Homo sapiens: one gene and its partners. The protein of the gene in region 1 purifies or fractionates together with the protein of each later gene. This does not show direct contact. Each region holds a gene or a part of one and is shown in the gene's direction. Other genes may lie near its edges.

Evidence for each region. Proteins that work in one complex are often made in the same cells at the same time.
Region 2: the proteins of AGPAT2 (region 1) and ATP12A purify together in Homo sapiens (affinity purification with mass spectrometry; one large-scale study listed by BioGRID and IntAct). This does not show direct contact.
Region 3: the proteins of AGPAT2 (region 1) and CLN3 purify together in Homo sapiens (affinity purification with mass spectrometry; one large-scale study listed by BioGRID and IntAct). This does not show direct contact.

What each region holds. Positions count from the first base shown.
Region 1 is NC_000009.12:136,677,442-136,681,045, reverse strand, and holds part of AGPAT2 (1-acyl-sn-glycerol-3-phosphate acyltransferase beta), read left to right. Parts: intron 1-3,489; coding exon 3,490-3,604. UniProt on the Homo sapiens protein: Converts 1-acyl-sn-glycerol-3-phosphate (lysophosphatidic acid or LPA) into 1,2-diacyl-sn-glycerol-3-phosphate (phosphatidic acid or PA) by incorporating an acyl moiety at the sn-2 position of the glycerol backbone.
Region 2 is NC_000013.11:24,693,804-24,697,407, forward strand, and holds part of ATP12A (potassium-transporting ATPase alpha chain 2), read left to right. Parts: intron 1-640; coding exon 641-775; intron 776-3,604. UniProt on the Homo sapiens protein: The catalytic subunit of a H(+)/K(+) ATPase and/or Na(+)/K(+) ATPase pump which transports K(+) ions in exchange for Na(+) and/or H(+) ions across the apical membrane of epithelial cells.
Region 3 is NC_000016.10:28,476,779-28,479,530, reverse strand, and holds the end of CLN3 (battenin), read left to right. Parts: intron 1-1,653; coding exon 1,654-1,794; intron 1,795-1,895; coding exon 1,896-2,015; 3' UTR 2,016-2,252; downstream 2,253-2,752.

The sequences.
Region 1 (3,604 bases):
GCCACGGAACCGTGTGCTGAGAAATGGGTACAATTATATTGTTTAGGTGGTGCGTGTTATACCACAATCAAAACAGAGGAGGGCTCGGCGCGCTGGCTCCTTCCTGTCATCCCAGCACTTTGGGAGGCCGAGGCGGGCGGATCATGAGGTCAGGAGTTTGAGACCAGCCTGGCCGACATGGTGAAACCCCGTCTCTACTAAAAATACAAAAATTAGCCGGGTGTGGTGGCGCACACCAGTAGTCCCAACTACTTGCTAGGCTGAGGCAGGAGAATCGCTTGCCGGGAGGTGGAAATGGCAGTGAGCTGAGATCTCGCCACTGCACTCCAGCCTAGGTGACAGCAAGACTCCGTCTCAAAAAAAATAAAAAATAAATGAAGATCTTATTTTTTAATAATTTCAGATTTACAGAGAAGTTGCAAAGATATTACGGGGGACCCCATGTGGCCCTCACCAGTTTCCTCCCTTGTTAACATCTTACATCACCAAGATGCAGTTGTTAACACTAAGAAACTAGCTGGCCGGGCGCGGTGGCTCACACCTGTAATCCCAGCACTTTGGGAGGCCGAGGTGGGAGGATCACCTGAGGTCAGGAGTTCGAGACCAGCCTGGCCAACATGGTGAAACCCCGTCTCTACTAAAAATACAAAAACTAGCCAGGCCTGGTGGCAGGCACCTGTAATCCCAGCTACTCAGGAGGCTGAGGCAGGAGAATTGCTTGAACCCGGGAGGCAGAGGTTGCAGTGAGCTGAGATCACACCACTGCACTCCAGTCTGGGTGACAGAGTGAGACCCTGTCTCAAAAATAAAAAAGTAAATAAAAGATGGAACTGGCCAATGTCACTACCAGAGGGAACCAATGTCCCTTTCAGATGTGGCCCGAGCCTCCTGCAGGCAGCTAGCTTTGGAATTGCAGGTGTGTCTTGGCTGCTGCTAGAAATCATACACATGTCCTTCACAGGAGATGAGTGTGGACCTGTCCTGTTCTTTCCCCGCGCCCCAGCTGTCTGTGAAATGGACCCTAATTTACTTTCCCTCTTTCTACTGGTGGCTATTTAAGCATTTTCAGGTTTTCCTAATTCACTGCACACTTCAGCACCACAGGCTTCTCACTCCAGCCGTCGGGCGAATTCCTGGAAGATTCTGAGAGGGGAGGGGCCAGGTTTCCTCAGGGCTCTGGCCGGGCCTGCCAACCTGCCCTCCACAGAAGTATCTTGTCTGTGCGACTCCTCACTCCTGCCAGCCGCTGGGCCTGTTCCCAACACCCTGGCTGGCACCTCCTGTTATCAGGCGTTTTAATCTGTGCCAGGGGGAAGGATGAGGACAGTCTCTTGTTTCCATTTGCGCTTCTTTGATTGGCGACACGGCCGTCTTGCTAGCACCAGACAGTTCTGTGTTTCCTGTTGGTGAACTGCCGGCTTTTGCCTCCTCGTCTTCTTGGAGCGTCACAGGGGTCCGGGAAGCTGGATTGCGCAAATGAGTGTGGAGGCAAAACAGCCCTGCAGTTCCCCTGAGTGTGCGGGTGCTACCAGCCCGGGTGTGCCTTCTGGGTGGGAGGGGACGGTGGCCGGCGCGGCCTGGAGAGGAGATATCTAGAGTTGGCTGAGGAAGGCAGATCTGAGGAGGCCCCAGGCTTCCAAGTCCAGGGACGGACGGCTGGACTCATCACCAGAATTAACCATTAGGCCCCCCTTGACTCAGTTTCCCCATCTGCAACAGGGGGTCATGAGCATTGCCCCATCAGCCTGAGGTGGTGCTGCCGCAGGCCTGGGCTCACACATGGAAGGGCAGAGTGCCAGGGCTGGGGAGGGGACAGGGGTTTGTGTCGCATGGGAACAGACGTCAGCCAGAGAAGGTGGAGAGTTCTGGAGATAGAGGGAGGAGATGGCTGCTAGACACCGAATGTGCCCAGCGCCCATGAACTGTGCACCCGGAAAAGGCCAAGGAGATACATTTTATGTTACGTGTATTTTACCACAATTTTTTTTTAAAGGCCGGGCGAGTTGGCTCAGGCCTGTAAGCCCAGCACTTTGGGAGGCCGAGGTCGGCAGGTTGTTTGAGCCTAGGAGTTCGAGACCAGCCTGGCCAGAGATGGTGAAAGCCCATCTGTACCAAAAATACAAAAACTAGCGAGGTGTGGTGGCTCACGTCTGTGGTCCCAGCTAGTCAGGAGCCTGAGGTGGGAGGAGCCCAGGAGGTGGAGGCTGGAGTGAGCCCAGATTGTGACACTGCACAATGTGACACATTGTGTCACAGAGCAAGACAGAGCAAGGGGAGCCTGGGTGACAGAGCAAGACCCTGTTAAAACAACAAAAATCCCCACCAGTATGGCTTTGAGAGAAGGCCCCGGCTTTGAATCTCTGCTCTGTGGCCTGGGGCAGTTACTCAGACTCATCTGTAGAAAGTGTGGGGCCCTTAGGACTGCTGGGGGATCAAATGGTGGGGGGCACTAGTCTGCATGGAGAGGGGAGCAGCACTGGCAGCCCCCCAGTCAGCGCTGGCACAGCCTTGCCCCGGCCATCCACCCCTGCTGGAGCTTCGGAGTGGAGCTCCGTCCTCCTGGCTCCATCCCCGCCGGCTGCCCTGTGATGGGGTGCCCTATCTGGGGTGTGCCCAGAGCTTCCTGGCAGCACAGCAGGGCAGAGGTTGGGACGCTCGGAGCTGGTCAGAGTCTTCGGGTACCCCTTGGACATCCCTGGTCCCAACCATGACGGGCTGCTTGGACAAGGCCACCTCACATTTGCAGGTGCTCCAAGGGCAGCCCCCAGTGGGCTGGGCCCCTGCCAGAGTGGGGGCTGCTGTGGCCAGGGCTCAGGTGGCCCAGACCCTGGCTCTGCTGCTGCTCCTGGTGTGACCTCAGACAAGCCCCGAGCCCCTCGCCGCCTCTTCACGGGGAAAGGGAACCGGCCTGATTCTGTAGGGTAGGGGTGAGAGAGGGTCTCGGTCTCGGCTCTTTTCTGGAAGAACCTTTCGGAGGTCGTTTCAGAGGTCTCCACTGGCGCCGACACTTTCTTCCTGATGTGGCCCTGCCTTGAGGGGCCAGTGACCTTCCCCAGGGTGTGTGGGGCCCCATTTCCTCTGCTGGGGTGCAGAGGCTGCTCTCCCCGACGTGGGTCCTTCATAGCGGACGTGAGAGCCAGTGCCAGTTCCTTTCCGGCTGGGTCCCCTGTGGGGTGGATGAGGGCTGGGTGGGCCCTGGATGTGGATTTGGAAGTGGGCGCCTTCCCATGCTCCTAGCATCCGAGTTCCAGAGGCTCTGGGTTTTCCTCTGTTGCTGGGGAGACGGAGGCAGGGCAGCCGTCCAGGTGGGTGAGCCGGGCCCGGGACTCTGTCCGCTTCAGGGGCTCCCTCCCCTGTGTCTCCCGGTCTCCTGCCCCGTGCCAGGAGGGCCCCTCCCCAGCCTCCTCCACACCCCACCCCCAGGCCTTCGCGCCCCAGCCTCGGCTGCGGGATCTGTGGGACCCGTGTTCATGGTGGCCTCCCCTGCAGCATCATCGGCTGGTTCGTGCGAAGCTTCAAGTACTTTTACGGGCTCCGCTTCGAGGTGCGGGACCCGCGCAGGCTGCAGGAGGCCCGTCCCTGTGTCATCGTCTCCAACCACCAG
Region 2 (3,604 bases), on another chromosome or scaffold:
TTCTTGCTTCAAAATATACATAACTTTAGTATTTGTCAGCAGTACCTTGCATCTAAATAGCCGATTACCGGCTGATTGGAATTAAACCTCTTTGATTCCGGTTTATCCCTCCTGGGGTCTTTCTCGAATGCCACTAATTTCCCTTAATGGTGCTTTTATAGTCACTTAACTTTGCTCAAAATCTCTCCGTACTTCCCTGTTTTCTGCTTCTCAAGTCTAGACCTCAGGCTACCTTTCAGGGCCCTCCAGGTCTTGCCACACCCTCCACATCCGCTTGTACCTTGAACACTCACGGACGAGCCTGCCCCTCATGCCCCTGCACCCGCATCCTGGTTTCTGGAAGGCTTTCTTCTCTGTGTATCGGTAACCCACCTATCTATCAAGATCTAGTTCGTAGCTGCTTTTTTCCACGAAATCTTCAGTCCTCGCAGAGGTCCAGCTTCTCCAAACATCCCTAATGCCAGTAGGTGGCACTGTTGTTTACACGCTTACCACGGTCTTGCGGCCCTCCCTGATCACGTGATAATGTCTCTCCAGCTAGGTGGTAATGGGATCAGGAGGGTGTGTTTTGGGTCCTATGCTGAGGGCATGTTGGTTCATTAAATATGTGCTGCAAATATTTTTCTTCTTTGATTCCCAGAAAGCTGTGATTGGAGATGCCTCAGAAACTGCTCTTTTAAAATTCTCAGAGGTCATTTTGGGTGATGTGATGGAAATTAGAAAAAGAAACCGCAAAGTAGCTGAAATCCCTTTTAACTCTACTAATAAATTTCAGGTGAGTTTTTCCTCACAACCGGTAATCTCTGTCATCGGCAGCATGACCTTTCTACTTGCATGCATCCTTTGCTTACCTCATATTTTGAAGGATACCTGGCTTCAAAGACAGTCGTCAGGGATACAGCACCCAGGCATCTGGTCCCCTAGGTCAAGCTCCCTTGCTGGCCTCCTTCCTAACCCTGAAGCAGGGCAGAGAAAGAAAGAAAGGCAAGGACTTCATCAGGGCCTGGCTGCTCCTATGAATGAGCCATCTCTGTCACAGGCACACACTCTCTCTCTCTCACACACACACACACACACACACACTCACACCACCACTATCAGGTACCTTCTGCCGTGAGGAGCAGCAGCCATACTCCAAAGCATAAATGCCAGGTGGGCAGCAGGGAGGCCGAACACCTGCTCCTCTCACCTCTAGTGCATCAGGCCCTCGACCTACGTGGCCTTGTTCCATGTTCGCATCCGGCCTGTGAGGTAGGACTGACGAATCCTGACTCAGAGGAGGAAGCAGGCCCTTAGAAAGTGTTGAGAGACCAGAGTCACACAGCACCCAGTGTTCCCAAGCCTGACACCAGGTCCACGATTCTTCCACCATCACACAGAGGGAGTGCGGCACAGTTCAGGCCATGGGAGCAAGCCCTGCCCTTTGGGGAGACCGGTGAGCAGCCCCTGGGGTGACAGCCCCGTCGTTTTCTGGGGCCAGCCCCTGTGCTGTGGGTGGGGGTCTCCTTTCCATCCCCTGCTCAGGTAGAAGACGGCCTTCCTTGCCTGGTTATCTCAGCAAGCAGGGCTGGCCGACAGTCAGCCATCACAGCCTCCCCATGTTAAGACAAATGACAGTTGGGAGCCCCAGGTCCCCATGCAGATGGGATTTTCCACAGAGCCCACACTGGATCTGGACTTGGGCTTTGCACAACAGTAAAGTATAGAAATGGAATAACCACAACTGTACGTGTGGAGATTTCTGGTGATTATCCACCTGTCTTAGTTCGGATGGAATTTAGGGTTAGGGAAGAACTCTTTTTTTTTTTTTTTTTTTTTTTTGAGAAGGAGTTTCACTCTTGTCACCCAGGCTGGAATGCAGTGGCACGATCTCGGCTCACTGCAACCTCCGCCTCCCAGGTATAAGCAATTCTCTTGCCTCAGCCTCCTGAGTAGCTGGGACTACAGGAATGCACCCCCTGCCCAGCTAATTTTTTTGTATTTTTAGTAGAGACAGGGTTTCACCTTGTTGGCTGGGCTGGCCTCGAACTCCTGACCTCCGGTGATCTATCCGCCTTGGCCTCCCAAAGTGCTGGGATTACAGGCGTGAGCCACCAAGCCCAGCCTAGAGAAGAACTCTTGTGTTGCAAATGTCTTCTTTGTGGATAGTGAGCCAACAGAGAATCACAGTTAGCTAAATAGACAACTAACCAGAAACATATGATGTAAAATACTCAAGCCAAGAAACCACATCTCTTACGTAAAACCAAAGTGAAAATAGAGTGCGCAACAGTCCTAAAAGACTGTTTTAGGATGAGTATTATTATACTAATAATACTAGTGATAATAGGAGCTATTCTGTGCTAATTTCCACAAGTATTAAATTATTCATTCGCACGACAACACTGTGGGGTGGCTAGAGGATGAGGAGGTTGAGGTGCCGCGCATCAGTGCACAGTGTGAAGATGGGGTTAGATGATGCCTCCATCAGCAGCAGGACTTGGAGCCCTGCTGAAGCTCCATCTCCCAAGGTAAAGGCATGCCCAGTTGCAAAAGGGAGAAAAAGCAGGTTCCATGAGGCCTCATGTACAAGTTGGAGGAGAAAGTGGCTACACAGAGTGGGACTAGAAAGGGGAGAGGGGGGCCGGGCGCGGTGGCTCACGCCTGTAATCCCAGCACTTTGGGAGGCCGAGGCGGGTGGATCATGAGGTCAGGAGATCGAGACCATCCTGGCTAACAAGGTGAAACCCCGTCTCTACTAAAAAAAAAAATACAAAAAATTAGCCGGGCGCGGTGGCGGGCGCCTGTAGTCCCAGCTACTCGGGAGGCTGAGGCAGGAGAATGGCGTGAACCCGGGAAGCGGAGCTTGCAGTGAGCCGAGATTGCGCCACTGCAGTCCGCAGTCCGGCCTGGGCGACAGAGCGAGACTCCGTCTCAAAAAAAAAAAAAAAAAAAAAAAAAAAAGAAAGGGGAGAGGGGCTGTGTGAGTTCCTGCTGAAGAGGTCGGAGGTGCTGTCTGGATGCTGTTAGGGTCATTTTATATCTACACATGAGCGGTGCTCAGCCTCACCAGGGCTTTAGATGTCATGGCCTTGGAAGGAGACGTCTCTGCGGGAAGGAAATAAAATGGAAAGCCTGTGTCTTATTGATTAGAATGGTGATGCCCCAAACACACTGGTCTGTTAAGACATTTGAAACAGTTTACGGCAAATTGGAAAATGTTTTATAAAGTTTTATATAAAGATGAATGTATTTAATTTAAAAGATTATCCTTTGTAGCCACCATGATTAAGGGCAGGGACTCTGGAGCCTGCTAGCCTGGGCTCAAATCCCAGCTCAGCCACCAGATAGCCACCTATTGCTCAGTGACCCTGAGTGAAGCATTGAACCTCTGTGCCTCAGTTTCCTCCTTTGTAAAAGGGAATAATAATAGTACCCATGGCCTTAAAGTTGTTTTGAGAATAAATAAGTCGATGTGGACAGCACTTAGAACAGTGCCTGGCACGTGGTACATACCATAAAAGTGTTTCATATTATCCCTATGTTTTAAATGTAAAAAGCCTTATCTTGGCCAGGTACAGTGGCTCACACCTGTAATCACAGCACTTTGGGAGATCGAAGAAGG
Region 3 (2,752 bases), on another chromosome or scaffold:
ACTGCAACCTCCGCCTCCCAGGTTCAGGCGATTCTTCTGCCTCAGCCTCCTGCGTAGCTGGGATTACAGGCACGTGCCACCACACCTGGCTAATTTTTGTATTTTTTAGTAGAGATGGGGTTTCGCCATGTTGGCCAGGCTGGTCTTGAACTCCTGACCTCAGGTGATCCACCCGCCTTGGCCTTCCAAAGTGCTGGGATTACAGGTGTGAGCCACCACACCTGGCTAGAGGTGTGTCCTTTTTAATGCTCATCTTTAAGTCTACCTCAGATTTAATGAATTAGGACCTCTAGGGTAAGCCCCGCTTGGGGCATTTGTACCTAGATCCCCAGGCAATTCTTACATATACGAAAAGTATGAACCGCCACGAGGAGGCCTACACACTGCACAAGAGGCAATGTGGCGTGGTCAGTGCTGGGAGGATGGCACCTCCTTGAGAGACTGGGGCACAGAGGTGGGACCTACACCCTGGGGTGGGGATCGAAGAGGCTTCCTGGCCAGGTGCGGTGGCTCCTGCCTATAATCCCAGCACTTTGGGAGGCTGAGGCAGGGGGGCAGCGACTGCTTGAGACCAGGAGTTCGAGCCCAGCTGAATAGGATGCCCGGCTACTCCCACCTTGTTTTACCATAGTGAACCAACGGTTTTTCCAATAGGGGCAATTTTGCTGCCCAGCGGATGTTTGGCAACGTCTGCAGGCATGCTTTGGTTGTCACAACTGAGGGATGCTATGGGCATCTAGCGGGCAGAGGCCAGGGATCCTGCTAAATGCGCTGCCATATACAGGACAGCCCTCACCATGCAGAACAACCAGCACCAAACGCCAAGAGTGCTGCAATTGAGAAATCCTGGTTTCGATGGTCCCACTTCCTTTAAGAAGCCTCCATTTTTTTTTTTTTTTTTTTTTTTTTTTTTATGAGACAGGATCTTGCTCTGTCACCCAGGCTGGAGTGCAGTGGCACAATCATAGCTTACTGCAGCCTCCACCTCCTAGGTTCAAGCAATCCTCCTGTCTCAGACTCCCGAGTAGCTGGGACTGCAGGTGCGTGCCACCATGCTCAACTAATTTTTAAATTTTTTGTAGAGACGGAGTTTTGTTATGTTGCCCAGGCTGGTCTCGAACTCCTGGCCTCAAGTGATCATCCCACCTTGGTCTCCCAATGTGCTGGTATTACCTGCATGAGCCACTGCACCAGGCTGAGGTTGAGAATTTTTTTTTTTTTTTTTTGGGATGGAGTCTCTCTCTGTTGCCCAGGCTGGAGTGCAGTGCTGCGATCTTGGCTCACTGCAGCCTCTGCCTCCCAGGTTCAAGTGATTCTCCTGCCTCAGCCTTCCAAGTAGCTGGGACTACAGAACCACTACACCCAGATAATTTTTGTATTTTTAGTTGAGATGGGGTTTTACCATGTTTAGTAGAGACCAGGCCAGGCTGGTCTCGAAATCCTGACCTCAGGTGATCTGCCCACCTCAGCCTCCCAAAGTGCTGGGATTACAGGTGTGAGCCACCACACCGGGCTGGTGTTGAGATTTTATCTAGACCTGGCAGCCCTCTCCTTCACCAGTAACTCCTAAAACCAGGGACCCCTGGAGGGGAGGCCACCTCTCCTTCCCTGCCCCGCCCTGGTCCCAGGCTTAGCCTCTCCCCCTGTTCACAGTGCCTCAACCTGGTGTTCCTGCTGGCAGACGTGTGGTTCGGCTTTCTGCCAAGCATCTACCTCGTCTTCCTGATCATTCTGTATGAGGGGCTCCTGGGAGGCGCAGCCTACGTGAACACCTTCCACAACATCGCCCTGGAGGTCAGCATTGGCCGGGCAAGGGCTGGGGGTGGCCTGTCCAGGGACACCCAGGGCAGGGATGTCTGGGACTGAAGCCTCACCCCTGCTCTCTGCCCTCCCAGACCAGTGATGAGCACCGGGAGTTTGCAATGGCGGCCACCTGCATCTCTGACACACTGGGGATCTCCCTGTCGGGGCTCCTGGCTTTGCCTCTGCATGACTTCCTCTGCCAGCTCTCCTGATACTCGGGATCCTCAGGACGCAGGTCACATTCACCTGTGGGCAGAGGGACAGGTCAGACACCCAGGCCCACCCCAGAGACCCTCCATGAACTGTGCTCCCAGCCTTCCCGGCAGGTCTGGGAGTAGGGAAGGGCTGAAGCCTTGTTTCCCTTGCAGGGGGGCCAGCCATTGTCTCCCACTTGGGGAGTTTCTTCCTGGCATCATGCCTTCTGAATAAATGCCGATTTTATCCATGGACTTCTTATATCGTTTTTGTCTCTAAAAAGAAACTTTTATTATGAAAGTAATACATGCCCACTTTCCTATATATAGACAGCATAAAGAAGGTATGTCAGCAGATTTCTCCCTTTTTTGTTTGTTTGTTTGTTTGTTTGTTTGTTTTGACAGAGTCTCACTCTGTCACCTAGGCTGGAGTGCAATGGCGTGATCTTGGCTCACTGCAACCTCCACTTCCCGGTTCAAGCAATTCTCCTGCCTCAGCCTCCCGAGTAGCTGGGATTACAGGTGGTCACTACCATGTCTGGCTAATTTTTATATTTTTAGTACAGACGACATTTTGCCATGTTGGCCAGGCTGGTCTCAAACTCATGACCTCAGGTGATCCGCCCACCTTGGCCTCCCAAAGTGCTGAGATTACAGGTGTGAGCCACTGTACCTGGCCTCTGCCATCTTTGAGGCCTTACGTATTCATTCATTCATGCATTCATTGTTTGGGACAATCTGTAAACAATCATGTT